Linked DNA regions of Homo sapiens: regions 1, 3, 4, 5, 6 and 7 are each linked to region 2. Evidence: fine-mapped expression QTL. A gene starts in region 2. Each other region holds a variant in brackets. All regions are shown on one strand. Distances are from middle to middle. Region 1 holds the start of TMEM186 (transmembrane protein 186). Region 2 holds the start of CARHSP1 (calcium regulated heat stable protein 1). Region 3 has its middle 19 kb from the start of ABAT. Region 4 overlaps PMM2 (phosphomannomutase 2). Region 5 overlaps PMM2 (phosphomannomutase 2). Region 6 overlaps PMM2 (phosphomannomutase 2). Region 7 overlaps PMM2 (phosphomannomutase 2).

Region 1 (4,065 bases), 71 kb after region 2:
CGGCTGAATATCTTTTTACTAGAAATTTAGAAAATACAAAAAACCATTTAATTCAACCTCAGTATATAAACACTTGGAGTTCAATGATTTTTCTTTAAAAAACTTTTTTAGAGTAATACATGAATGTGATTAAAATTGTACAGAAGGGTTTGTAATAGAGTGCAATCTTTTCTACTCTCACAGTGGAATCTGGACCTATTAGACAGAATCTAGAATTGGAGGAGTGGCCTTTAAAAGTCAGAACACGGTGGCTCACGCCTGTAATCCCAGCACTTTGGGAGGCCGAGGCGGGTGGATCACGAGGTCCAGAGATAGAGACCATCCTGGCCAACACAGTGAAACCCCATCTCTACTAAAAATACAAAAATTAGCCAGGCGTGGTGGTGCCTGCCTGTAGCACCAGCTACTTGGTTGCCTGAGGCAGGAGAATTGCTTGAACCTGGGAGGTGGAGGTTGCAGTGAACTGAGATTGGGCCACTACACTCCAGTCTGGTGACAGAGTGAGACTCTGTCTTAAAAAAAAAAAAAGAGTCAGAACTGTGAAAATCAGAAAATCAGAAGCACTTTCCTGAATGGCATACCCAGTGACTAGAACAGCTTCCACCTTAGCACAGATAGGAAATGGCAAACTTGACAGGAACCAATATCCTGAGGCCCAGAGACTTGTACCAGGTTGGCTGTGTGAAACTGAGGAGGTTAGTTCTTCACTGAGTGTGTTTCCTTATGTTTAAAACGGTAATAACAACTATCCTACCTGGGAAGAAAGATGGAGGAAGGTTGAGAGGGTTCAGTGATATGAAAAAGGGTGGCAATGTAAACCCTAGACCACTATGGCCCACAGACCACATTGGGCAGCTGTTTGTTTTTGTAATAAATAAATAAAATTTTATTGGTACACAGCCACTCTTATTTATATAGGGTTTATGGCTGGTTTTGCACTAAAGTTGAGTGGTTACTATAGACCACATAGTCAGCAAAGACAGAGAAGTATTTGCTATATGGCCCTTTACAAAAAATGAATTGGGGACCGGAGTTTTAGACCACTATGGGCTTTTAACAAACCCAAGTGTGTGATCACTGAATTTCAGAATCAGAAAAAGCCTTTGAAGAACTTGGGAGTTGAGCGTCATCACTAGGTAAATCAAACCTGTGGCTGAGAAGGGCAAAATGATACGTCTAAGGTCACACGCATTTGACCTGGACTTCTGGAGCACACCATTGTTACCACCAAGCGAAAACTATGAGGGGTGAGGGTAGAAGCTGAGGATAGTGAGACCATTGGGGTCCAGTCTCAAGTTGAAATGGCCAGTGTTCAGTGGCCAATTTCTGAAAAGGGGCCAGGAGAGCCTCACCTCAAGGCTGATCGTAACTGAAACTTATCTGTGCCTGTAGCAGCAAAATCTGAAAGTGGAAAGCAAGTTTCCAAGGGCCCAAAGAGGCTCTCAGCGGGCAGCCTGTAATAACCTAGGGCTCCTCCATCTCCCTAGTCCATTGCAGGGGCTGGAGATGGGTGTGGTGGAGGTGGCTACTATTTACTGAGGCCTAGTGTGTTGTGTCCAACATACTTTCAAGAACTTACACAATCTCATTTGATCCTCACAGACACCATATGGAACAGGTAACATCCCCATTTAAAGCTGTAGATGTTGAGGCTCAGAGAGGTTAATGACTCGCTGAAGGTCACACAGATGTCAAGAGGTGAAGATGAGACTCCACTAGGTCGGTTTGACCTGGAAACCTGTTTTTAATATCATGACTCACGGCACAGCCCATTGGTTACAGGA[T/C]TGGGGCCGACACATAGCTGATAAGGGGGCCTGATCTTGGGTTGAAATCCTGGTCTATCAGTCCCGAGCACTAGCGGTGAGTCCAGATTACATTTTCCAACCTAGCACAAGTTTCCTGCTCTTAAGAGTTCTTCAGCCCCGTCTCATCTTTCCAAGCACCAGAGCTCTTCAAGAGCTGGTTAGGGCCTCCCTCTCATTCCTCCAGTGCACCCAGAATAGGGTTCAGCGCCGTGAGGACGTAGGCGGTCCTTAGCCACCCCTTGGCGCCTACCCTGGGTGGTCGATAGCCCCAACTGGGAACAGCACGGGCTCCGCGTCGGCTGCCAGCAGCCCGCCGGCCGCCACTTACCTGCCGCGGGGCGGTGAGGGTCCCATCCACGTCGAAGAGGCAGAGCGCTGGGCCAGGCGCTGCCATGTCCCCAGTTTCTAGCCGCACCTTACAAGACACGTTGGCACGAGGAACTCGGCCCGGAACTTCCGGGTTCGGCCGCTGAGTCGCAGGGCACGTCGGGAAGAGGAGGGGACTCCGTTCCCATAACGCCTGGGAGTAGCGGCAGCCACGATTCCTGGACCGCAACTCCCAGGGTGCAACGCAGATCACGCCCGCCTTGTACATTCGAGCATGCGCTCTTAGGGGTTCCGGGGGCCGGTGGGATTTACTTCCGGCAGCAGGTGGTGGGGCCATGGTAAGGAGGCGGGTGGCGAGCCTTGAGGGGGTGATGCTCTTTGGGGTCGGGGTCAGGGCTGGGGCGGGCAGGCCCGACGCTCGGGTTTCGGACTCCGAGGATCCGTGGGAGGAAGCTCTGGCGTGTGTTACAGTTCGCTTTTCCCGGGCTTTCTCTTGCCCTCCTTGGGTCACATGCGCACAGTAGTAGTAGCTAAAACTCGCCGAGCTCTCACAGTGCATTAGGTACTAAGTTGAGGACTCTGAAACCATCCTCTGGTTCACTGTGTTCTGAGTCCCCATTTTGAAAGGCGAAGAAACCGAATCTCAGGGGTGTGGAGTAATTTGCTCACAAATTACTGTTGGAGCCAGAATTGGAATAAGAGCTTTTACTGCTTCACTACCCACCTAGTAATACCCTTGTGCTACGTGTTGGGGCCTCCCTGCCTCGCTCCTTCTCCTTCTCCGCTGTTTCCCCTTCCCCAGACTAGGCTAAGAGAAAGCAGCAGTTCCCTCCAGCACCCAAGATAGCATATGAATCAAACAGAGAATTAGAAAGTTTATTGGAATAAATATCTCACAGATTTGTTGCTCGAGTTCCCCACTAAGACACTGATTATTTAGTTTCCTGCTTGGGGAAATGTTCACACCCCCTTGTGGATACATTGTCCAGCCCAGAGTTTGTCCTCCCTGGATATGTTTTGAATTAATGACGGCCGCACCTCCTTTCCTGTATTTATTTGGAATTGCCTGGTGGAAGGAGGACTCTGCTGCACTCACTGACTGTGTGATCTTTGGTAAATATCTTACCCTCTCTGGGCTTAGTTTCCCTAGTGGTAAAGTGGAAATAGTGATAACTATCTTAGATAGCTGTTGTGATGCCCACATGAGATAGCATCTGGCTTTACCCTTCCCTCGTCTGGCAATAACGGTTACCTTGCAGGATTGGCAGAAGCCTTAGAGTATGGTGCTTTGCAGATGTTCACCGTGTGATTAATGTGGTTGAGTTCCATGAGAGAAATGGTCTACTGTCTCCCTTTCAGGCTGCCCTTCTCCGAGCTGTGCGTAGGTTTCGGGGAAAAGCTGTGTGGGAAAGGCCTCTCCATGGGCTGTGGTGCTGCAGTGGGCAGGAGGATCCTAAGAGGTGGGTGGGCAGCAGTTCACCCATCTCGAAGGAGAAACTACCAAACGCAGAGACTGAGAAATTCTGGATGTTTTACCGTTTTGATGCCATCAGAACCTTCGGGTTCCTGTCACGACTGAAGTTGGCACAGACTGCCCTGACAGTGGTAGCTTTGCCACCAGGCTATTACTTGTACTCCCAGGGCCTCCTCACTCTCAACACCGTGTGCCTCATGAGTGGGATATCGGGCTTTGCCCTGACCATGCTGTGCTGGATGAGCTATTTCTTACGGAGACTGGTTGGTATCCTGTATCTGAATGAGTCTGGCACCATGCTGCGGGTGGCCCATCTGAACTTCTGGGGCTGGCGGCAGGACACATACTGTCCCATGGCAGATGTGATTCCCCTGACAGAAACCAAGGACCGGCCTCAGGAGATGTTTGTGCGTATCCAGCGGTACAGTGGGAAACAGACCTTCTACGTCACCCTGCGCT
Region 2 (4,065 bases):
ACTGAGTCATAATTCACACACCATACAGTTCACCCATTGAAAGCACACAATGCAATGATTTTTAGTATATCCACGGACTTGTGCAACTATCGCCACCATCACTTTCAGCACATTTTCATCATCTCAAAAAGAAACCCCTGTACCTTTTAAGTATCAACCGTCTAGCCCGCACCCCCACCCCCAGCCTCTGGCAACCCTTAATCTACTTCCTGTTTCTAGAGATTTGCCCATTCAGAACATTTCATACAGATGGAATCACACAAAGTGCGGCCTTTGTGTGGCTTCTTTCTCTTAGCATATTTTCAAGGTTCCTCTATGTTGTAGCTTGCATCAAGATTTCATTCCTGTTGATGAGTGAATAGTTGTCTACTGTATAGATACACAACATTTTGTTTATCCTTTCATCACTTGATGGACATCTGAGCTGTTTCTCCCTTTTGGCTACTATGAGTAATACTGCTATAAATCTTACTCTGTCACCCAGGCTGGAGTGCAGCAGTGCAGTCACGGATCACAGCAGCCTCGATCTCCTGGGCTCAAGGGATCCTCCCACCTCAGCCTCCCCAGTAGCTGGGACTACAGGTGGGTGCTACTACTCCTGGCTAATTAAAACTTTTTTTTTTTTGGTAAAGAAGGGGTCTTACTATGTTGTCCAGGCTGGTCATAAACTCCTGGGCTTAAGAGATCCTCCTGTCTCGGTCTCCCAAAGTGCTGGGATTACAGGCGTGAGCCACCACGCCCAGCCCAACAAGTAAATCATTATTTATCTATTTATTTATTTTTGAGATGGAGTCTTGCTCTGTCGCCCAGGCAGGCTGGAGTGCAGTGGCACTATCTCGGCTCATTGCAAGCTCCGCCTCCCGGGTTCACGCCATTCTCCTGCCTCAGCCTCCCGAGTAGCTGGGACTACAGGGGCCCGCCACCGCGCCCGGCTAATTTTTAATATTTTTAATAGAGACGGGGTTTCCCCGTGGTCTCGTTCTCCTGACCTCGTGATCCGCCCGCCTCGGCCTCCCAAAGTGCTGGGATTACAGGCGTGAGCCACCGCGCCCGGCCTATTTATTTATTTTTAACTTTTTTTCCCCCCCGAGACGGAGACTCGCTGTCGCCCAGGCTGGAGTGCAGTGGCATGATCCTGGCTCACTGCAACCTCCACCTCCCGGGTTCAAGTGATTCTCCTGCCTCAGTCTCCCAAGTAACTGGGATTACAGGCACCCGCCACCAAGCCCGGCAAATTTTTGTATTTTTCATAGACACGGGGTTTCGCCATGTTGGCCAGGCTGGTCTCCAACTCCTGAGCTCAAGTGATCCTCCTGCCTCGGCCTCCCAAAGAGCTGGAATTACAGGCGTGAGCCACCGCACCCGGCCTCAAGTAAATTTTTGTGTGGACAAACATTTTTATTTCTCTTGGGCGCGCAGACACCTAGGAGTGGAGTTGATGGGTTTTATGGAGACTCCAGGGCTCGTGGTTTGAGGAACCGCCGGGCTTTTTCCACAGCAGCTGCGCGGTTGTTCCCACCAGCCGTCTAGGACGGTTCCTTGCCTGGCTTGGACTAGTTGGTTTCGCTGCTGGGCCTTTTCCCCAGTGGCCCCAATAGGGGCTGCAGAGTGAGGCAGGCACAGTCCTCACCGCCGCCTCCGGGGGCCCTGTTGTCCCGGGCGAGCTCCGGGGACCTCTCTCCTTCCCCGCGCCCCTCAAATACCAAGCTGACCCTGGTCCCGGGATCTAGGCTCGCCTTCAGGGGCTGCTCTCGACTGGCCGTGCCCATGGGCTGGTCGCCTCTCTGTGCCTCAGTTTCCTCTCCTGCAAAACAGAGGTAACATTTTTTACCTCCAAAAACAGAGGACTCAAGGAAGGCTAGAAATGAAACAAGAGAAGAGAACAAAATCAAAATCCCCAACGAGAAAACAAAACCCTGTTTTTCTGGTGTGTGTGTGCGTGTGTATTTTTTCTTTCCCTTTTCCTCCTTTCTGTTTTTTGCTTGTTTTCTTCCGTCTCTCTTTTCATTCCTTTATTTCCTTTCTGCTAAAAGTGACACCCTCCGGGATTATACAGATTTTAGAGCCAAAGGCAGGTGGGAGCCGCACCTGGCGCGCGTGGCGAGGGGAAGGAACTGCACGGGCGCAGGGACACAGTTCCCCCACTTTGCAGGGGCGTTTTCTGCTGGTGGGTGCAGCCCAGCTCCGCCCCGCCCCGCCCCGCCCCGGCCCCTACGTCCCGCGCTCTGCGTTCCGCTCTCCCGCCAGTCTAAGGCGCGGACACAAAGGTCCTGTCCGGGCCACTCCCGCCCCGCCCGCCCCCACCGTCCCGGGCTCCCTCCCGCAGCCCCATTGGCCGGGAGCTCCTGGGGGCGGGGATCGGCGCCCCACCCCCCCTCGGGCCACGCCCCCTCCCCAGCTCCGCGCTCTCAGTCGGAGCGAAGCGGCTGGCGGAGCAGAACGGATTGCAGGGTAGGGAGCTCTTCTCGGGGACCCCAGGATAGGCGCCCCTGGCCCGCGGCCCCGGGAGCCGCAGGGGTGGGGCCTCGGCCTCCTCTGCCTCCATCGTCCCCCATCCTGCAGGGTCTTCTAGCTCGGCAGAGGAGGGCTCCGGGCTGGGTTTCTCGGGGCCTGTTTGGGGAACGCGGGTTGCTCCTCCCCAGGGGAAGGGGTGGGTGTGGCAACAGCGGCAAGGATTCTAGGCGGACGTCGGGTAGTACTTCCCGCCTGGCCACCTGTTCTCTGCGTGCAGGGGAAGCTCTTCCCGCCCTCCCCGCTGCTTTTGCCTTTGGGCGGGAGCCCTGGACGGGGGACTCGCCGGGCGGTGGGGCGAGGCGCGGGGGGCGTCGCACGCGGGAAGCAGAGCCACCCCCCGCCGGGCCTGGCCGCGCCAGCTGTGGCTCGAGGTTGGGACGGCGGCCAGGCCCGGCGGGGGAGGTGGGGAGCCGTCCTGGCGCCGCGCGATTAGCCGCATCTGGGGGAGGAGGAGCCGCCGGGCGCGCTGGGCCCGGGTGTTTGCGCCCGGATGGGGGTGGGGGTGCCTTAGGCGCTGGAGAAAAACTTCACCCGCGCCCACAGGCCCCCTTTCCGCAGGCTGCGCTGGCGGTTCAGGTTTGCAGGCCGGAAGTGAAATGTTCTTTTTTGATTTTTAAAAAGGAAGCCTCCGGCCCTATGGTTTTCTGGGGTTGGAGTGGATGTGTGTGCTGGGGGAGGCGGAGACGTCCCGCTCCAGGCAGGGCCTTGGGTCTTAATAGGTGGGGAAATCTCTGCCAAATAGGAGGCCTCTCGGAGCCTCAGTTTCCCCATCTGCAGACTGGGCTCTGACTTCTTCTGGCATGAGAGGGTGTGTGAGAGTAAAAGGAGGCAGCTAGCCCCGTGCCGGGAGACACGTAAGCTACTGTTTTTTAACTTGCTGTTTTGATATTTCTCAGTCTCTCTGTGCCCAGTCTTGCTTGCCCCTGTCATTTGCTGCCACTCTGAAGCCAGAGGGAACTTAGAAAAACAATCCGCTTAGATCTACCCCACGCTGAAAATCGTCCACCGAAGTCCCATTGTCGTCTAAGTCCCCAACTTCTCAGCAGGGCTTCCTGTTATCTTCCGCCACTACCTTCTCCAGCCTCTCTCTGCCTCTGTTCTCCCTCCCTTCGGGCCTTTGGCCCTCCTCTGGGCTCGGGGTCCTCCTTGGAGACCCCACCGCCCTCTGCACTCCCTGGGTGGCCTCGGTGATGACCGTGAGTTCTCGATGCTGGTCCCTTCAGGGCAAGAAAGAGGCGCAGAGCCCGGCTGGGAGTAGATGTTTTCAATGAGCTGAGCTAGGCCTGGCGTGGGGCCATGGGGTGGGGTTGAGGGTGGTTGACGGTGGGTCCCCTAGGTAGGGGATCGGTCTTTGTTCCACCGAGTGGCAAAGCCAGCGCATTTGGTTTGTGTTCCATCAGCAGGGGCAGGAATGGGAGGGAAGGTGATTTCAGATGGGCCCGTGCCTGACACTTCCACCATCAGCCGCACTATTGTGGACTGAGCCCGCCGTGCGCTTGGCATTTTCGCGGCACCATCTGCACAGCGTCCGAGCCCTGCGACGCAGCACCG
Region 3 (4,065 bases), 210 kb after region 2:
CCCTTTCTCAAATGTTTCCAAGTTTCCCATTCATAGGTTCTGGGGTTTAGAACGTGGACATAGCTTGTTTAGGGCCACCATTCAACCCACTATAGTTTCAAAAAGGTGGAAAACATCCTTTGTCTTCAGTTTCTCAGGACTGACTGAAATTGTTTTGAACTCCATATAGTAGACGAAAAGGAACCTGGTTTTATGGGGGACAAGTCTTCCTGCCTTTAGTTAAAGAGGGACAGGACAAAGGCTGAAACCACAGGCAAAGCTATTGTTGGTGTTTTGCAAACTTCAGCCCCCAAGATCACCATCTTTGTGACATTTGCTATTCCTGCTTCCCACTTACATTATTACTTAATATTGTATTTAACTACGCACAAATTATTAACTTAGCCTCAACCGAGAATAATATCCTTCATGTCCCTGGTTTTCAAATGCAAGATACATTTTTCTCCCAGAATACACAAAACAGGGCATGATGGTGTGGTTCAACAACTGGACTAGCTTGGAGGGTGACTTCAAACAGGTTTTGTGAGGTCTTGTAATGACATCGATCCTCCCTGAAGTGGCATCTTCCTCTCTTATCTTGCTGTAAGAAGGGCTCAGCTGTGGTTTAGATGTCTGTTCCCTCCCAAACAACTCATGATGAAGTGTATTCCTATTGTAACAGTATCAAGAGGTGGGACTTTTAAGAGGTGATTAGGGCAAGAGGACTCTGTGGATTAATCCTGTTATCACCAGAGTGGGTTTGTCTTCTCGGGAGTGGGTTCCTTATAAAAGGACGAGTTTGACCCATGTTTACTTCTCTCTCGTTCTCATCCTCTCTTTACTGTTCTACCATGTGGCGCCTTCTGCTGTGCTATCATGCAGCAAGAAGGCCCTTGCCAGATGCTGGCCTTTAGCTCTTGGACCTCCCAGCCTCAGAACTGTGAGCCAATACATTTCTGTTAATTACGTTACCCAGTCTGTGGTGTTCTGTTATAGCAGCACAAAATGGAGTAAGACAGCTTCCTGGGTTGTCAGGAGGGCATTGGAGCCGCAGGGCACAGCCCAGCCCAGGCCAGCACTGCTGGAACATCACTCACTGCAGATGAAGGTGGAGTGACAGGGACTGGCTGCTCTCCTGCTGAGGTAACTGGAGTCTCAAACCTCCTCTCCCATCTTCACAGCCCACACAGCTGTTTTCTCAGAAGCAGAGAATCTTACTCTGCAAGTTCACATTAGAATCCCTGTGTCCCAGGTTTTGCCTAGTGGCTGTGCTGGAGCTTAATCTTTGCTTCTCCAATAGTTAGTTGTGCAGTTGGTGCCTGAGGTCTACTCACGCAGGTCTGTGGGGGAAGTGGGGAAAAGGCCCTCAGGGTACAAATAAAATCATTTAGGAAGTGGGGGTGGAGGAAAGGACTAATCCCTGGAAGTGGCATCCTGCTACATACATGTCAATAGGATAAACTTCAAAATGCTTTTCTCTTAAAACCTCTCTGCGCCAGGAACAGTGGTGCACACCTGTAGTCCTAGCTCCTTGGGAGGCTGAGGTAGAAAGACTGTTTGAGCCCAAGCAGTTCGAGGCCGTGGTGCACTATGCTCATGCCTGTGAATAGCCACTGCACTCCAGTGGGCAACATGGCGAGACCTGTCTCTAAAACAACAACAACAAAAACCTGCCACATACCACTGGTATCCTAACTCGCCATACTTTGGAGAACACTGTGTTAGAGCAAAGATGTGGTCATCAGGAGAATTTACCTTGGTGGAGGGCATGGTGGTGAGTCTTCAAGAACTATGTCTTGTCAGAAGACACAGTCCTCCAAGCCAGAAAGCTAGGCATCACCCTCAGCCCTCTCCTCTTCCTGAATCCCCCAAATGCCTCAGAAATAAATCTTAGTTTGCACATTTAGGTGGATAATAGATTGAACGGCTTTGTTTAGAAGAGCACCTGGATGGAAGTTGGTGCTCAATGGACATCAGCTGTGGGTATGAGAACACGATCTCTGCATCACAATGCTGGCGGGCTTGCCCACTTCCTTCCAGATTCAGTGCCTCTTCAGGGCAAGGATGTGTCCTTTGCATCTCTCTTGTGGGCAGCCTCTGAGATGGTCCCCAGTGATCCCACCTTTGGGTATTCCCACTCTGTGTAATCCCCTCCCCTTGAGTGTGGGCTGGACTTAGTGACTCACTTCTGAAGAACTGAATGTGACAAAAGTGACGGAGTGTCACTTCTCAGATTAGGTTACCTCCCAGTAAACTCTCTCTATTCTTGTATGCTTGCTCTGAGAAAGCTGCTGTCATGTCCTGGCTTTATCAGAGGCCCCCTAGAGAGGCCCACATGGCAGAGAAATGAGAGAAGTCTGTGGTCAGCAGCCAGTGAGGAACTGAGGCCCTTAGACCCATAGCAGGTGAGGAACTGAATCCTGCCACCAACCACAAGAGG[G/T]AGCCTCAATGTGGATCCACTCTTAGTTGAACCTTCAGATGAGACCACAGCTGAACTCCTTGTAGCCTTAGCAGAGGTCTTAAGACAGAGGCACCCAGTTAAACTAAGCCCAGATTTATGACCCACAGGTACTGTAAGATAATAAATGTTTGTTGTCTTAAGCTTCTAAGTTTTGGGGTATTTTGTCATGCAGCAAATAGATAATACAGTTCCTTTCCCCAATGCCCCACACAGGGCTTGGCTTATTTTAGAGTCTTCTAACTATTGGGAAGAGGCCCAGCAGGTTTGAGTTACTCCCTTTTTTCCCTTCCCACATGGTGGCTGGATTTATGTCCACCTTCAGTTTGCTGCTATGTCCATTAGCGTTCTCTGTAAAAATGTAATGGGCTAGAAACATGGATAAAACTTATGGTGGAACTTCAGCCTTTAGTACAGATCACGGCCACACTCCCCTGGGTCTGGACATGACAAATTTCCCACTGGGGAACCAGACAACATGGAGTTCAGATGAGCCTGGCATAGTCTCATTCTATGCATTCTGAGGCTCAGTTGGAGGAGCACCAAGCCCAGGGTCTTGTAGCCCCAGACCCACCCAAGGGATGATTTGCCCTCTGAACTTTTCTCTGAGTCTTTCTAGAACCTTTGGGCTAAAATAAATTTTATTTCCCAAAAGCTTGGCTTGATCTATCTGTTTTCAAATACAGCTCTTGTTAGAGAGTAGCATTTTGGCTGTGTGTGTATGCATGCGTGCATGTGTGCACATGTACTTAATTTCTTTTAACTTTATTTTTAGTAAAAAAGACACAAAAATAACCCATGTTTGTAAAAACAAAATACATGTATATAACATAAAGGGCAAAGTCTCATCAATTCCATTCCCCCAATTCCATGCCCTGGGGTTAATCAAGGTTAACCATGTGGTATGTAACTTTCCACCTATAAACACATACCTTAGAGCTGCCATTTATAAGTTATGTGATGATGAGCAAATTACCAGGAGTGGTGAAGAGCCTGGGGGATAAATTCTTAGACTATAAAGCCAAACTTCTCAGGTTCAAAGCCTGGCTCTATCCCTCACAACTTATGTGACCTTGGGAGAGTTACCTGGCCCCCTTGCCTACTCCCTCCTTAGTTTACCCATCTATGAAGTGGGGCCTCACGTGAGTGGAGGGATATTTACTGAGCTAATGTATCTAAAATGTTTAGGACAGTTGGCTATCACCATCTCGATCCTCTGAGATCTCCCATTTTGCTTGAGCCTGTTTTTTCTTTTTTTGAGATGGGGTCTTGCTCTGACACCCAGTCTGGAGTGCAGTGGTGTACTCATGGGTCACTGCAATTTCAGCTTCCCACATTGAGCTTGGTTCTGAAGTCAGGCTTTCCACAAAATTCTTCCCTGATATCATCCTTCTTCCTGGGTTCTCACTACCCAGGTGTTTAGATATAGGAGATGGTCCCAGTGTTCCTGTCTCTAAGTCCTGGTCCTACTGAAACGTTTCAGTAGCTTGAGCCTTGGAAATGATGGGGAAGCAGGTTTAACTAACTGAGTCTTAGTTAATTAAGGCTTTACTATGTATGGTAGCTTTAGAATAAAGTTGGATTTTAATCATTACCACTCAGCCACTTAAAATCTCCAAATCCTTCCC
Region 4 (4,065 bases), 23 kb after region 2:
AAGAGGGAGGGTCCAGGCACAGTTTTTCTTTCTGTATCATCCTAGAATGATGGGGAAATTTCCGCCAAAACTACATGATTGCACGTATCAGGGTGGGTATTAGACTAGGGGGCTGGGGGTGGGTGGGGAAGACCTTTTGTGCGAGGCATTCCTCTGGGCCATTCTTGACAAGAGTTTTCTCCTTCCTTCTGGAAGTTTCTGGCACTGGAGGTGGAAGTCCAGACTGCACATGCCTGGCATAGCATGCAGAGCCTGCCTAGGCTGCGGGTGGGTGAGCACGTGTGGGAGGACCCTCGGCTCTGGCCACCGAATGCCCTATGCTGGCTTGTCAGCCGGGACCCCGCCCCTCCCGCTCCCACGTTAGGAGAACAGCAGTTCACAGATCCTGCGCGTGTCCTCAGGCGCTGTCACGGAGTAGCCCATGGTTCTGGGGTCTGTGAAGATCTCATGGTCATTGCCACCCTGGAAAGACACGAAGTACAGATGAAGGCTCCCCCTCGTCTGTCCCGGGCCATTGCTGATGTGACCCTGGAGTCCAAAAGTACCCAAAAAACAAGATTTAACTGGGCAGGGAGAGTTTCTTCAGCTACCTTCCTCTTAGTTTCCAGGAGAGGAACGTGAGTACAATTGTTATTAAGAAGAGATTTATAACCTTCTCTTGAACTGCAATTTGGCTTGGAACACGTAATTATGCCTATGAGAGCCATCACGATGTTCTTGCGAAGATCTGTCTAAGGCTTATTTTTCTACACAGAAGGCATCAGCGAGTGACAGTATTCTCACAGCCATCAGTTTTTTTTTTTTTTTTAGCTGTACCTACGCTTTTCTAACAAGTCACAAGGGAGCGTCAGGAGGGCAGAGGGCCGGGAGCAGGGCTGCCAGGGATATTCCTGTGATGAGGGACGTGGCGACATCAGCGGTGATGGCAGCCACTGGCCATGTGTCACTCTGCACACTTGAAACGTGGCCAATGCAATGGAGGAACTCAGTTAATTTGATTTTAATTTAAACAGCCCCACGTGGGCCGGGCATGGTGGCTCATGCCTGTAATCCCAGCACTTTGGGAGGCTGAGAAGGGTGGATCACTTGAGGTCAGGAATTTGAGACCAACCTGGCTAACACAGCAAAACTCCATTTCTACTTAAAATACAAAAATTAGCTGGGCATGGTGGCGCACGTCTGAAATCCCAGCTGCTCGGGAGGCTGAGGCAGGAGAATTGCTTGAACTCGGGAGGTGGAAGTTGCAGTAAGCCGAGATCGCACCACTGCACTCCAGCCTGGGCGACAAAGGGAGACTCTATCTTAAATAAATAAATAAATGGCCCCACATGACTGGGGTCTGAGCTGCTGGCTAAAAGCAGGGTCTCTGGAACAGGTGGCCTGGGTCAGATGCTGGTTCTACCACTGAGCAGCAGTGTGGCTGCGCCAACTCCCCATCTCCAAAATGGGGTCATGATGGAAGCTTGCTCACAGCTCTGTGGCCAGAAGTTCAGGAGATGATGGTTGGGGTCACACCTTGGTAAGATGACGAAACCGAGGCCTCAGAAAGTCTGCAAGGGCCCATGTCTAGGAGGACCTGGGCATGTTCTGCTGGGGTCCTGTGCCTGAGTTGAGTGCTCC[C/A]ATCTGTGTCCCCATCACCCCCACCAATCCCACTGGGCTCACGTTAATGAATCAGGTTATCTGCCGCTCCCGCAACCCCGAGCCCTGCAGGAAAGCCCCCGTTTTTCTCATGGAATTCCTTTATTTCCCTCATAAAATTGGATAATCACTCTAACTCAAAACCTTAAAATAATCTACGATTGCTTTACAATACAATGAACACAACCGTAGAAAAAAGGGATTTTTCTCATAAAGCACCGAGCATGAAGCCAACGTGGAAACCATGATTTTGTACCAAAAATCTGACATCCTTTAAAAGAATTAATTGCCTCTGGAAATGAGTGTTTTCATTTTTGCAAGAACCTATCCCCAGGCAGATGGCCTCCTCAGGTGGAGGTGAATTTCAGGCTTCAGGAGGGAACGTCGCTGGGCCCAGGGAGTGCTGGGTGGAGTCAGGTTAGGAGGCCATGAACTTGGCATCTCTTCCAGTCCAGCCACTTGGGAACCTGTCAGGGCCTTGTACTGGCCTTACACAGTTTTGTACCAGGCCTGGGGGCCTTCAGACAGACCTGAATTGCATGGCCACCATCTGCTACCTACACATGTGAAATCAGTTCTGGTAATTCTGATTTTGCCTTTTTTTTCCTTCGGACATAGGGTCTTGCTATGTTGCCCAGGCTGGGCTCGAGCGAACCTCCTGCCTCAGCCTCTCGAGTAGCTGAGACAAAGACTGTGTCCAACAGTGCCAAGCTAGTTCCAGTAATTCTTCTAATTAAAAAAAAAAAAAAAAAGATTTCTTTCAGGAATGGCACAGTGGGTAAAAGTCACAGAGAACCTAACAAAGGCACAACCTAGCTGGGTGTGGTGGTGCGCACCTGTAATCCCAGCTGCTTGGCAGGAGAATCACTTGAACCTGGGAGGCGGAGATTGCAGTGAGCCAAGAACAGACCACTGTACTTCAGCCTGGGCAACAGAGCGAGACTCAAAAGAAAAAAAAACAAACAAAAAACCAAAGGCACAACCAACTCTCACATGCCTCAAAAGAGCCAAACACCCTCCCCGCCTCAGTGACTGAGGAGGGGAGTCAGTATTCACACATTAACACAACACACCTTTCTAGAACACCTACTGTCAGGCCTCTGAGCCCAAGCCAAGCCATCGCATCCCCTATGACTTACACGTGTACATCCAGATGGCCTGAAGTAACTAAAGATCCACAAAAGAAGTAAAAATAGCCTTAACTGATGACATTCCACCATTGTGATTTGTTTCTGCCCCACCCGAACTGATCAATGTACTTTGTAATCTCCCCCACCCTTAAGAAGGTTCTTTGAAATTCTCCCCACTCTTGAGGATGTACTTTGTGAGATCCACCCCTGCCCGCAAAACATTGCTCTTAACTTCACCGCCTATCCCAAAACCCATAAGAACTAATGATAATCCACCACCCTTTGCCGACTCTCTTTTCGGACTCAGCCCGCCTGCACCCAGGTGAAATAAACAGCCATGTTGCTCACACAAAGCCTGTTTGGTGGTCTCTTCACATGGACGCGCATGAAATTTGGTGCCGTGACTCAGATCGGGAGACCTCCCTTGGGAGATCAATCCCCTATCCTCCTGCTCTTTGCTCCATGAGAAAGATCCACCTACGACCTCAGGTCCTCAGACCCACCAGCCCAAGAAACATCTCACCAATTTCAAATCCAATAAGCAGCCTCTTTTTACTCTCTTCTCCAACCTCCCTATCCCTCACCGTCTTTCTCCTTTCAATCTAGGCGCCACACTTCAATCTCTCCCTTCTCTTAATTTCAATTCCTTTCATTTTCTGGTAGAGACAAAGGAGACGTTTTATCTGTGGACCCAAAAAACCGGCGCCGGTCACGGACTGGGAAGGCAGCCTTCCCTTGGTGTTTAATCATTGCAAGGACGCCTCTGATCATTCACCCACGTTTCAGAGGTGTCAGACCACGCAGGGACACCTGCCTTGGTCCATAACCCTTAGCGGCAAGTCCCGCTTTTCTGAGGAAGGGGCAAGGACCCCAACCCCTTCTTTCCGTGTCTCTACCCCTTCTCTGATTTTCTGGGGCAGGGGCAAGAACCCCCCAACCCCTTCTCCTTCACCCTTAGCGGCAAGTCCCGCTTTTCTGGGGGAGAGGCAAGTACCCCAAACTCGTATCTCTGTGCCCCAATCCCTTATTTCCATGCCCCAACCCCTTTCCCGCTTTTCTGGAGGGTAAGAACCCCCAAACCCCTTCCCTCCATGTCTCTACGCTCTCTTTTCTCTGGGCTTGCCTCCTTCACTATGGGCAACCTTCCTACATTCCTCCTTCTTCTCCCTTAGCCTGTGTTCTCAAGAACTTAAAACCTCTTCAACTCATACCTGACCTAAAACCTAAATAAATGCCTTATTTTCTTCTGCAATGCCGCTTGACCCCAATACAAACTCGACAGTAGTTCCAAATAGCC
Region 5 (4,065 bases), 47 kb after region 2:
AATATAAAAAAGTGTTTAACTTTCTTTGGGTTTATAGTCGTATAACTATGTTATTAGTATGTGTTACAAAATTGTGTAAGACTCCTATAATTCTGATACGTCTCAGTATATGTTATGAGTAATAATTATAACTGTTCTGTTAAACTGTGTGTCACAGAGATGACCAGATTTCCTTGTTGACTGCATCTTTAACTACGGCTGTCCTGAGACTTTTGTTACCCACAGGCAGTTGCTGTCTTGGTTTTATCCTTTTCAAAAGGCAGTTTATAATCAGATATAGTACTCTAATGGGTACTCTTGAATGCAGGTCTCTGATAACTTTACAAATTGTGCCATTGGAATGGAGGAAAAAAAACTTCTAGGATCCTCATGGAGAGCTGATGTGTTAAACATTGTTAATCCTTTTGTTTTTCAGAGTCCAGAAAACTATTTTTCTTTTGAGCTATTTACAACTTTAACAATTGAGTTAAAGTATACTTCTGTGAGCAAAATTTAGAGCATATTGCCTTCTCTCTGATTTCTCCAGAATTTGGAAACTATTTGTGAGTATTCTCAACTTATGGCAGTATAATTATTTGTGCAAGGGCAGTAACAATCTGTTTTCTTTTGTAATAGGATACAATTAGAGATGCCGGTTACTTTACCAAGGCTTTGACTGGTACGACATACTTTCAAATATAAACAGACTGCTTTAAGGAACAAAGTTGACTAACAGAGCCAATAGAAGTCCCTTGGAAAAGCTGGCCTCATACCTTGTCTACACAGTCCCTGTACGGGGTTCCTGAACTGTGGTAAATAAAGACCGTCACTTTTTGACAGGCCCAGGAGCCCCAAATTATCTTAGGACCATGAGAAGAAAAAATTTCACCCAACTCATACAGGTTTATCTTTGCAGGTATAGTAGATAAATCCATGGCTGGGCTCGAGGCTTTAAAAAAGTCTAACCTGAGATTTCTTATGGAACAAAGTTTCAGCAAAGCCAATTTTAAAAACAGCCTATCTGGCAAACAATTATTCTTGCTTTACTTTATACAAATAATCAGGCCAAGCTTAATAAGACTATGACTTATTTTGCAAGTAAACTTGTCCTACTACGGTTTGTCTTTAATAAAAATAAGGATGGGAGAGGGAAAAAAGTGTTTCAAAAAACTATGATACACCCTGCTGTTAGATTCTAGTCTTGTCCTTTGTTCTTGAGTTTTTATTATTTCCTGCAATTTGGACTAAATCCTGAATTCTCTGTGGGCTACAATTCCCAAACTAATGCTTTCAATTTTTTTTTCCCACTTTTCTGACTTGGACTCAATTAAATTGCTACTACCTTTTTCCTGAGGCCCTGCAAGCTGAAGCTTATTCTTTGTAATACAGATGACAAAAACATGTCAAATTGCCACTGCCTTCCTCCTCTATAACTAAAGATGCCTAGCCCATCTCCAGTGCCATCTCTTGATAATGGAAACAGCTGTTTAACTGAACTGATCTAGTCTTAGGACTAGGAAAACTGACTAAAAAGATAAGGATGAGTATATTTAAATTTCCTCTTTCCTGTCTACCCCAATCTGTCTGTCTAACAACCTCTGACCCAAATCTCTCTCTGCTAGTAACCCCATGTCTGATTGGTTCTTGGAGCTATTTACCTGGGTCCCTCAGAGCTTAGGATCAATTCTACAAAAGCTTCTGAAGCCAGGACTTTCACTCTTTATCCTAGGACTCATTTGTTAAAACTATAGATGAGAATACTAATGCCTTTGTCATGCAGGCCTTCAAACCCTAACCAGGAACCCCTGAGTAGAAGCAGACAGCTGCAAAGTGGTTTCACTCCTCCTACCTTTGGGTCAACACCTACCCTGACTACGCTCCCTGTCAG[C/G]AGAAAGAAGCTAGAGCGGTTATCACTCTTTTCCCATCTTCATATCCCACAGTATGAAGTATTAGGAATAAGGTATTATAAAACCCAACAGGAGGAACTGAAACTGTCTTTGCAAAAATTTTAACTGAGAAAATTATGATGGTGACCTAAATGACTCCATCTTGCTTCTAACTTCCAAGATGTCCTTGTTCATTCCTGGATGCAGACCAAACTAACCTTGGGAGGAATTCAGTTTATAGTTTAACTTTGAAACAATGCCGGTAACAGCCCTTTCCCTGAAATAAACCCCCTTCTTGCCTGGGGACCAGTCTGCCTTTGTAGGACTAACAAATTAGCTACAAGAGTCTGAACCTCCCCAAATTGCTCCTGAAAATAATATCACTGTCATAAAACCTAAGATTGTGCCTGAGATATTTTGTAGACCCTGTGTTCTGATGCAGTATCTGATGCCACACAGACAGGTAATCTGGCTCAACCAGCTCTTTGATCCCACCAGGAACAGAAGATAGCAAGAAAAACTCACTTCCACCCCCTATGATTTCATCTCCAAGCCGACCAATCAGCAATCTCCACTTCCCAAGCCCCTACCCAGCAAGTTATCCTTAAAAACTCTGATCCCCAAATTCTTGGAGAGGCTGATTTGAGGAATAATAAAACTCCAGTCTCCTGTACAGCCAGCTCTGCGTGAATTACCCTTTGTCTACTGCAACTCTCCTGTCTTGATAAATCGGCTCTTGTCTAGGCAGTGGGCAAGGAGAACCTGTTGGGCAGTTACAGGGCCAATGAGACAAGAGCCTGCTCTGAAATGGCGTAGAGCAGTAGTGGCTCTCCCTGGCTAGAGTCCCTGGGGATGCCTTAAAAATGCTTGTTTGGGGCATGGCCCAAGCCCAGGGTCATGATGTTTTGAAAGTGATCAGGTGATTCCAATATATATCCAGGGCTGAGCACCAGTGACTTAGAATCTAGGAAAAAACACCCCTTGGCTTGGGGGCGAGGGTGGAACCTGAGCTGGCCAAGGGGCTAGTGGCCCTAGGGCGAGTGACCCTTGGGTCTGTTGACGGCTCTGAGCACAGCCCTCTCATTTCACCTCTCCGGCCTTCAAGGGCAGAGGAGACAGCTCTGTGACGGATCTGGGCCTGGAATGCCCACAGGAGATGCCGATTCTGCGGACATCAAGGGGCTCCCTGGAAGGCCAGCCCCACTCCAGGGGTTTGAAGCCAGTGTCTCCCTGAATGAAAGAGCTTCAGCACAGACACAGGCAGGGATGCTCACTCTGTGGGCTGGTTGTTAGCCACAGTCCTATTCCTGGGACCAACACCCAGGGCCATGGACTCTGTGGAGTCTGGCACTCAGGAGGAAGGTGGGCTAGCAGGAACATCTGAAGCTCGTGGCTCCCATGCATGACACCCTGCTTCCTGGCCTCCCACACAGGAGCGGGTGGGACATCTCCACCAGGCTGAGAACCTCTCATCAATTTCTGCCAGTCAGTTCTGGAAGCTGACTGTGGGAGCGGCAATTCACTCAGGGTCCCTCCAGGAGTGAGGGACTCACATGTTAAGAAGCTAAGTCTGCCACCAGCCACACAAGAAGACCTGGGTCTCAAATCATGTGGTCCCAGCAATAAGTAGTAAGACAGATCTATCCACAGAATCCATTCTGTGCCCTCCTTAGCCTTGAGTCCTGAAAGAGCTACAGATGCTAGGCATGGTTAAGTCCAGGATCGCAAAGGCCAACTGCCATCCAAAGCCTAACTTGGAACCTGAGGACAGGAGGACATGGTTCACTAATTCACGCTCTAATGAACTGTTGGAAGGTGTGTAGGAAGGTGCTCACTCACAAGGATGGCCCTTCACTGAGGGACTTGGCAGGCTCCAATCTCTTAGGAAAATCTCAATAACAGATGAGCCTTTGAATAACTTTCTTAGAAAGTGAAGGAAGCAGACGCTGGTTGTGGACCAGGCCAAAGATGCATGTCCCAGCTGCCTTTCCTGAGTCAGGCCCTGCGTCACCCACTTTCCTCAGATGCCTTCACTTCATTCTCATATGACTCCTTCAGAAGAGCAACTGTGGTCGGGAGTGGTGGCTCACGCCTGTAATTCCAGCACTTTGGGAGGCCAAGGTGGGCGGATCACTTGAGGTTAGGAGTTCAAGACCAGCCTGGCCAAGATGGTGAAACCCCGTCTCTACTAAAAATACAA
Region 6 (4,065 bases), 34 kb after region 2:
CCTTCCCTTGGTGTTTAATCACTGCAGGGACGCCTGATTATTTACCCACGTTTCAAAGGTGTCAGACCATGCAGGGACGCCTGCCTTGGTCCTTCACCCTTAGCGGCAAGTCCCACTTTTCTGGCGGAGAGGCAAGTACACCAACCCCTTCTCTCCGTGTCTCTACCCCTTCTCTGCTTTTCTAGGGGAGGGGTAAGTACCCCAACCCCATGTATCTCTGCGCCCCGATCCCTTATTTCTGCGCCCCAATCTCTTATATCTCTGTGCCCCAATCCCTTATTTCCGTGCCCCAACCCCTTCTCTGCTTTTCTGGAGGGCAAGAACCCCCCACCCCTTCTCCGTGTCTCTACTCTTTTCTCTGGGCTTACCTCCTTCACTATGGGCAAGCTTCCACCTTCCATTCCTTTCTTCTCCCTTAGCCTGTGTTCTTAAGAACTTAAAACCTCTTCAACTCACACCTGACCTAAAACCTAAATAAATGCCTTATTTTCTTCTGCAATTCCACTTGACCCCAATACAAACTCGACAGTAGTTCCAAATAGCCAGAAAACGGCACTTTCAGTTTTTCCATCCTACAAGATCTAAATAATTCTTGTCGTAAAATGGGCAAACGGTCTGAGGTGCCTGATGTCCAGGCATTCTTTTACACATCAGTCCCTTCCTAGTCTCTGTGCCCAGTGCAACTCGTCCCAAATCTTCCTTCTTTCCCTCCCACCTGTCCCCTCAGTCGCAACCCCAAGCGTCGCTGAGTCTTTCTAATATTCCTTTTCTACAGACCCATCTGACCTCTCCTCCTCGCCAGGCTGAGCTAGGTTCCAATTCTTCCTCAGCCTCCGCTCCTCCACCCTATAATCCTTTTATCACCTCCCCTCCTCACACCTGGACCAGCTTACAGTTCATTCTGTGACTGGCCCTCCCCCACCTGCCCAGCAATTTACTCTTGAAAAGGTGGCTGGAGCTAAAGGCATAGTCAAAGTTAATGCTCCTTTTTCTTTATCCCAAATCAGATAGCGTTTAGGTTCTTTTTCATCAAATATAAAAATCCAGCCCAGTTCATGGCTCGTTTGGCAGCAACCCTGACACGCTTTACAGCCCTAGACCCTAAAAGGTCAAAAGGCCGTCTTATTCTCAATATACATTTTATTACCCAATCTGCTCCCGACATTAAATAAAACTCCAAAAATTAGAATCTGGCCCTCAAACCCCATAACAGGACTTAACTAACCTCACCTTCAAGGTGGACAGTAATAGAAAAAAGTGGCAATTCCTTGCCTCCACTGTGAGACAAACCCCAGCCACATCTCCAGCACACAAGAACTTCCAAACGCCTGAACCGCAGCAGCCAGGCGTTCCTCCAGAACCTCCTCCCCCAGGAGCTTGCTACACGTGCTGGAAATCTGGCCACTGGGCCAAGGAATGCCCACAGCCCGGGATTCCTCCTAAGCCGCGTCCCATCTGTGCGGGACCCCATGAAAATCAGACTGTTCAACTCACCTGGCAGCCACTCCCCAGAGCCCCTGGAACTCTGGCCCAAGGCTCTCTGACTCCTTCCCAGATCTCGGCTTAGCAGCTGAAGACTGACACTGCCCAATCCCCTCGGAAGCCCCATAAACCATCACGGACGCCGAGCATCGGGTAACTCTCACAGTGGAGGGTAAGTCCATCCCCTTCTTAATCAATACGGAGGCTACCCACTCCACATTACCTTCTTTTCAAGGGCCTGTTTCCCTTGCCTCCGTAACTGTTGTGGGTATTGACGGCCAGGCTTCTAAACCTCTTAAAACTCCCCAACTC[T/G]GGTGCCAATTTAGACATTACTCTTTTAAGCACTCCTTTTCAGTTATCCCCACCTGCCCAGTTCCCTTATTAGGCCGAGACACTTTAAATTATCTGCTTCCCTGAGTATTCCTGAACTACAGCTACATCTCATTGCCGCCCTTCTTCCCAATCCAAAGCCTCCTTTGTGTCCTCCTCTTGTATCCCCCAACCTTAACCCACAAGTATAAGATACCTCTACTCCCTCCTTGGCAACCAATCATGCACCCCTTACCATCTCATTAAAACCTAATCACCCTTACCCCACTCAATGTCCCATCCCATGGCACGCTTTAAAAGGATTAAAGCCTGTTATCACTCGCCTGCTACAGCATGGCCTTTTAAAACCTATAAACTCTCCTTACAATTCCCCCATTTTACCTGTCCTAAAACCAGACAAGGCTTACAGGTTACTTCAGAATCTGCGCGTTATCAACCAAATTGTTTTGCCTATCCACCCCGTGGTGCCAAACCCATATACTCTCCTGTCCTCAATACCTCCATCTACTACCCATTATTCTGTTCTGGATCTCAAACATGCTTTCTTTACTATTCCTTTGCACCCTTCATCCCAGCGTCTCTTTGCTTTCAGTTAGATGACCCTGACACCCATCAGGCTCAGCAAATTACCTGGGCTGTACGGCCACAAGGCTTCACAGACAGCCCCCACTACTTCAGTCAAGCCCAAATTTCATCCCCATCTGTTACCTATCTCGGCATAATTCTCATAAAAACACACGTGCTCTCCCTGTTGATCGTGTCTGATTAATCTCCCAAACCTCAATCCCTTACAAAACAACAACTCCCTTCCTTCCTAGGCATGGTTAGTGCGGTCAGAATTCTTACACAACAGCCAGGACCACACCCTGTAGCCTTTCTGTCCAAACAACTTGACCTTACTGTTTTAGCCTAGCCCTCATGTCTGCGTGCAGCGGCTGCCGCTGCTTTAATACTTTTAGAGGCCGTAAAAATCACAAACTATGCTCAACTCACTCTCTACATTTCTCGTAACTTCCAAAATCTACTTTCTTCCTCATACCTGATGCATATACTTTCTGCTCCCCGGCTCCTTCAGCTGTACTCACTCTTTGTTAAGTCCCACAATTACCATTGTTCCTGGCCCGGACCTCAATCTGGCCTCCCACATTATTCCTGATACCACACCTGACCCCCATGACTGTATCTCTCTGATCCACCTGATATTCACCCCATTTCCCCATATTTCCTTCTTTCCTGTTCCTCACCCTGATCACGCTTGATTTATTGATGGCGGTTCCACCAGGCCTAATCGCCACATAGCAGCAAAGGCAGGCTATGCTATAGTACAAGCCACTAGCCCGCCTCTTAGAACGTCTCATTTCCTTTCCATCGTGGAAATCTATCCTCAAGGAAATAACTTCTCAGTGTTCCATCTGCTATTCTACTACTCCTCAGGGATTATTCAGGCCCCCTCCCTTCCCTACACATCAAGCTTGAAGATTTGCCCCCACCCAGGACTGGCAAATTAGCTTCACTCAACATGCCCCGAGTCAGGTAACTAAAATACCTCTTACTCTAAGTAGACACTTTCACTAGATAAGTAGAGGCCTTTCCTACAGGGTCTGAGAAGGCCACCGCAGTCATTTCTTCCCTTCTGTCAGACATAATTCCTCAGTTTAGCCTTCCCACCTCTATACAGTCTGATAACGGACCAGCCTTTACTAGTCAAATCACCCAAGCAGTTTCTCAGGCTCTTAGTATTCAGTGGAACCTTCATATCCCTTACAGTCCTCAATCTTCAGGAAAGGTAGAATGGACTAAAGGTCTTTTAAAAACACACCTCACCAAGCTCAGCCTCCAACTTAAAAAGGACTGGACAATACTTTTACCACTTTCCCTTCTCAGAATTCAGGCCTGTCCTCAGAATGCTACAAGGTACAGCCCATGTAAGCTCCTGTATAGACGCTCCTTTTTATTAGGCCCCAGTCTCATTCCAGACACCAGACCAACTTAGACTGTGCCCCCCAAAACTTGTCATCCCTACTATCTCCTGTCTAGTCATATTCCTATTCGCCATTCTCAACTACTCATACATGCCCTGCTCTTGTTTACACTGCCGGTTTACACTGTTTCTCCAAGCCATCACAGCTGATATCTCCTGGTGCTATCCCCAAACTGCCACTCTAAACTCTTGAGGTAAATAAATAATCTTTGCTGGCAGGACTATGCTGAATCTCCTTAGGCACTCTCTAATCAGATGTCATAGGTCCTCCC
Region 7 (4,065 bases), 53 kb after region 2:
GGCACCCTTTATGTAACACCAGACTCTGCCTCCTGGAGGCTGTGCTGCTGGAAGAGGCTGCTAAGCCTCAGGGCCTGGCTGAGAAATGGCTTTTTTACTGACAGCCTCAGCTCAGGATCACTTCCCTGGACGCCGGCAAAAACATCAAACTTCATTAGGAAAGGAAAAAACCCCAGCTTTCTAAATGTCTATCACTGAAAATGCAAAGTGTAAGGCTAGTATTTGGATTGCTCTGCACCTGAAGTTTCAAGAACTGATAGGTTGTTTGAAGGTTTACATGGCTGGACTGCTAATTTCCATTTCTAGAAAACCGCTGACGAAAAGGATCAGGGATGGGGGCAAAGAATCGTGCAAGAATGTTCACCACAGCATTAGTTATGATAGCAAAACCCCTTAAACCACCCAACGTGCCTCTGCAAGGGAGGTGAGTAACTGATGCCTAATGAGAGAATATTATACAGCCATTAAAAATCTTCTTTGCGCCAGGCGCAGTGGCTCACGCCTGTAATCCCAGCACTTTGGGAGGCCGAGGCGGACGGATCACGAGGTCAGGAGATCATGACCATCCTGGCTAACATGGTGAACCCCATCTCTACTAAAAATACAAAAAATTAGCCGGGCGTGGTGGTGGGCACCTATAGTCCAAGCTACTCGGGAGGATGAGGCAGGAGAATGGTGTGAACCCGGGAGGTGGAGCTTACAGTGAGCCGAGATCACGCCACTGCACTCCAGCCTGGGTGACAGAGCAAGACTCTGTCTCAAAAAAAAAAAAAAATCTTCTTTGCAAAGAATATTCACTAATATGATAAAAATAAAATACGTTAAGAGAAAGAAAACTAAAACTAAAACAACATGTAAGGATCCCACTTTTGGGATCATATACATAGAAAGGCTGGGACATTGTTGGATGATTATAGGTGACTTTCTTTTTCTTCTTCGTACTTTCTCTAATTTTCTATAATGAATGCACAGGTTAATTTACAATTGGGGGAAAGCTTCCATTAAATAATACTCATTTTTTAAAACGTAGGTAAGATTTTAAAAATAGAATCCAGGCATGGTAATGCAATGGTTAAACAGAATAGAAAACCCTCTAATTCCCAAATGAAGAATTCCCAAAATAAGTCATTTTCTGATTATCCAAGAACTGCATTCCATTCTGCAAAGTCCCAACTGAGGCTTCTAAATGGCTATTTACATGAAGCAAGAATGTCATCATTACAGAACAATCTGCTGTCGTGTGTCTTAATAGCTCTCCTCTCTGTCTACAAGAAATGGCACCAAGCTAGAGAAGGACTGAGGAAGCTTCCGGGCATCCCTTAGATCCTAGGTGTCATTTCATTAGCTTAATTTTTTTAAAGACATGAAGTCAGACGGTGATCTTTTTCAAAGCCTGCACTGAAAGCATTTCTGCATCAAAAGCATTTCAACAAAAGGATGTGGTTATAAAACCATATGTAACTGTCATTAAGAACAAACCTGAATGCTACACCTCCTTCAAAGTACCCAGTTCATCTGGGATTTAGAACAAGATCTTTCTACCCCACTGAGAGAGAGCTTATCGTAGTGGAAAGCACACTCATTTAAACAGCAGGTATCACCAGCTGTGGTAGTGCACGCCTCTAATTCCAGCTACTTGGGAGGCTGAAGCGGGACAATTGCTTGAACTCAGGAGTTGGAGTACAGCCTGGGCAACACAGCAAGACCCTGTCTTTATTTTATTTTATTTTAAACAGCAGGTATCTCTTTGTGATCCTGATTTCAATTATTTTGGATATATATCT[C/G]TAAGTGGAACTGCTGGATCATATGGCAGTTCTATTTTTAATTTGAGGAACCACTATGTAGTTTTCCATCATAGCTATGACATTTAACATTTCCCACAACAGTGTACAAGGGTTCTAATTTCTCCACACCCTCGCCAACATTTATTTTATCTTTTTGAGACCGAGTTTCGCTCTTGTTGCCCAGGCTGGAGTACAATGGCACAATCTCAGCTCACTGCAACCTCCACCTCCCGGGTTCAAGCAATTCTCCTGCCTCAGCCTCCCAAGTAGCTGGGATGACAGGTGTGCACCACCATGCCCAGCTAATTTTGTATTTTTAGTAGAGACGGGGTTTCTCCATGTTGGTCAGGCTGGTCTCGGAACTCCTGACCTCAGGTGATCCGCCCACCTTGGCCTCCCAAAGTGCTGGGATTATAGGTGTGAGCCACCGCACCCAGCCACCAACATTAAAAAAAACAAAATTAGCCATCCTGGCCCAGTGTGGTGGCTCACGCCTATAAGCCTAGCACTTTGGGAGGTCAAGGTGGGTGGATCACTTCAGGTCATGAGTTCGAGACCAGGCTGGCCAACATGGTGAAACCCCATTTCTACTAAAAATACAAAATTAGCTGGGCATGGTGGCGGGCGCCTGTAATCCCAGCTACTCGGGAGGCTGAGGTATAAGAATAGCTTGAACTCAGGAGGCAGTGGTTGCAGTGAGCCAAGATCGCATCACTGCACTCCAGCCTGGGTGACAGAGCAAAACTCCGTCTCAAAATAAAATAAAATAAAATGGCCATCCTGGCAGGTGTGAGGTTTATCTCATTGTAGTTTTGATTTGCATTTCCCTGAACACTGATGTTGAGCCTTTTTTTATATACCCACTGGCCATCTGCATGTCTTCTTTGGAGAACTGTCTATTCAAGTCCTTTGCTCATGTTTTAAATTGTTTTTTTTTTTGCCATTGAGTTGTTGGAGTTTCTTATACATTTTGGATACTAGCCCTTTTATCAGATATATGGTTTGCAAATATTCTCTTCCCCTCTGTAGGTTGCTTTTTCATTCTGATTATTTCCCTTGCTGTGCAGACACTTTTTAGTTTGACGTTGTCCAACTTGTTTGTTTTGCTTTTGTTGCCTGTGCTTTTGGTGTCACATCTAAAATATCATTGCTTTTTCCCTATGTTTTTTTTCTAGGAGTTTTACAGTTTCAGGTCCTGTGTTTAAGTCTTTAATCCATGGGTAGATGGCCAAAAGGACGAAGTCAGGATCTCAGAGAGGTATCTGTACCCCCGTGTTCACTGAAGCATTATTCATAATGGCCAAGATACGGAAACAACTCATGTGTCTACTGACAGAAGAATGGATCAAGAAAATGGAGTATATTCTGACCGGGCACGCTGGCTCACGCCTGTAATCCCATCAATTTAGGAGGCCAAGGCAGGTGAATCTCTTGAGGCCAGGAGTTCGAGACCAGCCTGGCCAATGTGGCAAAACCCTGTCTCTACTAAAAATACAAAAATTAGCCGGGCGTGGTGGCAGGCTCCTGTAATCCCAGCCACTAATCGGGAGGCTGAGGCACGAGAATCACTTGAACCAGGGAACCAGGGAGGTGGAGGTTGCAGTGAGCCAAGATGGTGCCACTGCACTCTAGCCTGGGCGACAGAGCGAGATTCTGCCTCAAGAAAAAAAAAAAAAAAAGAAAGAAAATATAGTGTATTCATACCATGAAACATTATTCCGCCTTAAAAAATAAGGAAACTTGCCATTTGTGCCAGCATGAGTAAACTGAGAAGACATACTGAGTGAATAAGCCCCTTACAGAAGGATGAATACTGCATGATTCCCCTTGTATCAGATATCTAAAGGTGCTAAAGTCATATAAGCAGAGAAAAGAACGGTGGTTGCCAGGGACGGGGCGGTGGAGGAGGGAGATGGAGAGTTGTTGTTCAATGGGTGTAATGTCTCAGTTATGTAAGATGTGTAAGTTCTACAGATCTGTTGGACAAACAGAAGTGCCTATAGTTAACAATACTGTATTGTACACTTAGAAACTTGTTAAGAGGGAATATCTCATGTTAAGTGTTCTTATAACAATAGCAACAAAAAAATCCCAAACCGCCCCCAAAACCAAAGAGGCACAATGATTAAACTCACGAAACTGTGAGCGTTAAATATGTACAGCTTTTGCTGATCAATTATACCTCAATAAAGCTATTTAAAACATACAAAGAACAGGTAGACTTCTTCTGGTGCCACCAGCTCTGTCATTAGCCGTGTGACCTTCGGCAAATCCCTTACCC

The links. PIP is the estimated chance that this variant, and not a neighbour inherited with it, causes the effect.
Region 1: its variant is fine-mapped to the expression of CARHSP1 in whole blood (TOPMed, PIP above 0.99).
Region 3: its variant is fine-mapped to the expression of CARHSP1 in whole blood (INTERVAL, PIP 0.94).
Region 4: its variant is fine-mapped to the expression of CARHSP1 in whole blood (TOPMed, PIP above 0.99).
Region 5: its variant is fine-mapped to the expression of CARHSP1 in gastroesophageal junction (GTEx, PIP 0.97). The same link has a PIP of 0.9 or more in esophagus muscle.
Region 6: its variant is fine-mapped to the expression of CARHSP1 in whole blood (GTEx, PIP above 0.99).
Region 7: its variant is fine-mapped to the expression of CARHSP1 in whole blood (INTERVAL, PIP above 0.99).

Annotation. Positions count from the first base shown.
Region 1 is chr16:8,796,017-8,800,081 of GRCh38, reverse strand. It overlaps TMEM186 (transmembrane protein 186), which reads left to right and starts at 2,443. Exons shown (of 2, transcript NM_015421.4): 1 at 2,443-2,470; 2 at 3,492-4,065. The coding sequence starts at 2,468. PMM2 (phosphomannomutase 2) reads right to left here and starts at 2,243. Exons shown (of 8, transcript NM_000303.3): 1 at 2,134-2,243. The coding sequence starts at 2,199. RefSeq lists a silencer at 555-604 and enhancers at 1,460-2,154, 2,467-2,516, 2,155-2,849. The variant T/C (reference allele first, on the strand shown) is at 1,785.
Region 2 is chr16:8,867,352-8,871,416 of GRCh38, reverse strand. It overlaps CARHSP1 (calcium regulated heat stable protein 1), which reads left to right and starts at 2,411. Exons shown (of 4, transcript NM_014316.4): 1 at 2,411-2,451. CARHSP1-DT (CARHSP1 divergent transcript) reads right to left here and starts at 2,136. Exons shown (of 2, transcript NR_186721.1): 1 at 2,089-2,136; 2 at 1,378-1,804. RefSeq lists a silencer at 2,089-3,048 and an enhancer at 3,189-3,248.
Region 3 is chr16:8,653,654-8,657,718 of GRCh38, reverse strand. It overlaps a transcript of METTL22 not described here. Among named protein-coding and RNA genes, the nearest start is that of ABAT, 19 kb to the left of the region's middle. The variant G/T (reference allele first, on the strand shown) is at 2,420.
Region 4 is chr16:8,844,121-8,848,185 of GRCh38, reverse strand. PMM2 (phosphomannomutase 2) reads right to left here. Exons shown (of 8, transcript NM_000303.3): 8 at 1-462. The coding sequence ends at 361. Among named protein-coding and RNA genes, the nearest start is that of CARHSP1, 23 kb to the left of the region's middle. RefSeq lists an enhancer at 1,105-1,696. The variant C/A (reference allele first, on the strand shown) is at 1,621.
Region 5 is chr16:8,820,524-8,824,588 of GRCh38, reverse strand. The region is part of intron 7 of PMM2 (phosphomannomutase 2); the gene reads right to left. Among named protein-coding and RNA genes, the nearest start is that of PMM2, 25 kb to the right of the region's middle. The variant C/G (reference allele first, on the strand shown) is at 1,868.
Region 6 is chr16:8,833,792-8,837,856 of GRCh38, reverse strand. The region is part of intron 7 of PMM2 (phosphomannomutase 2); the gene reads right to left. Among named protein-coding and RNA genes, the nearest start is that of CARHSP1, 33 kb to the left of the region's middle. RefSeq lists enhancers at 873-1,405, 1,406-1,940. The variant T/G (reference allele first, on the strand shown) is at 1,795.
Region 7 is chr16:8,814,617-8,818,681 of GRCh38, reverse strand. All of the region lies in intron 7 of PMM2 (phosphomannomutase 2), which reads right to left. Among named protein-coding and RNA genes, the nearest start is that of PMM2, 19 kb to the right of the region's middle. RefSeq lists a silencer at 4,010-4,065. The variant C/G (reference allele first, on the strand shown) is at 1,785.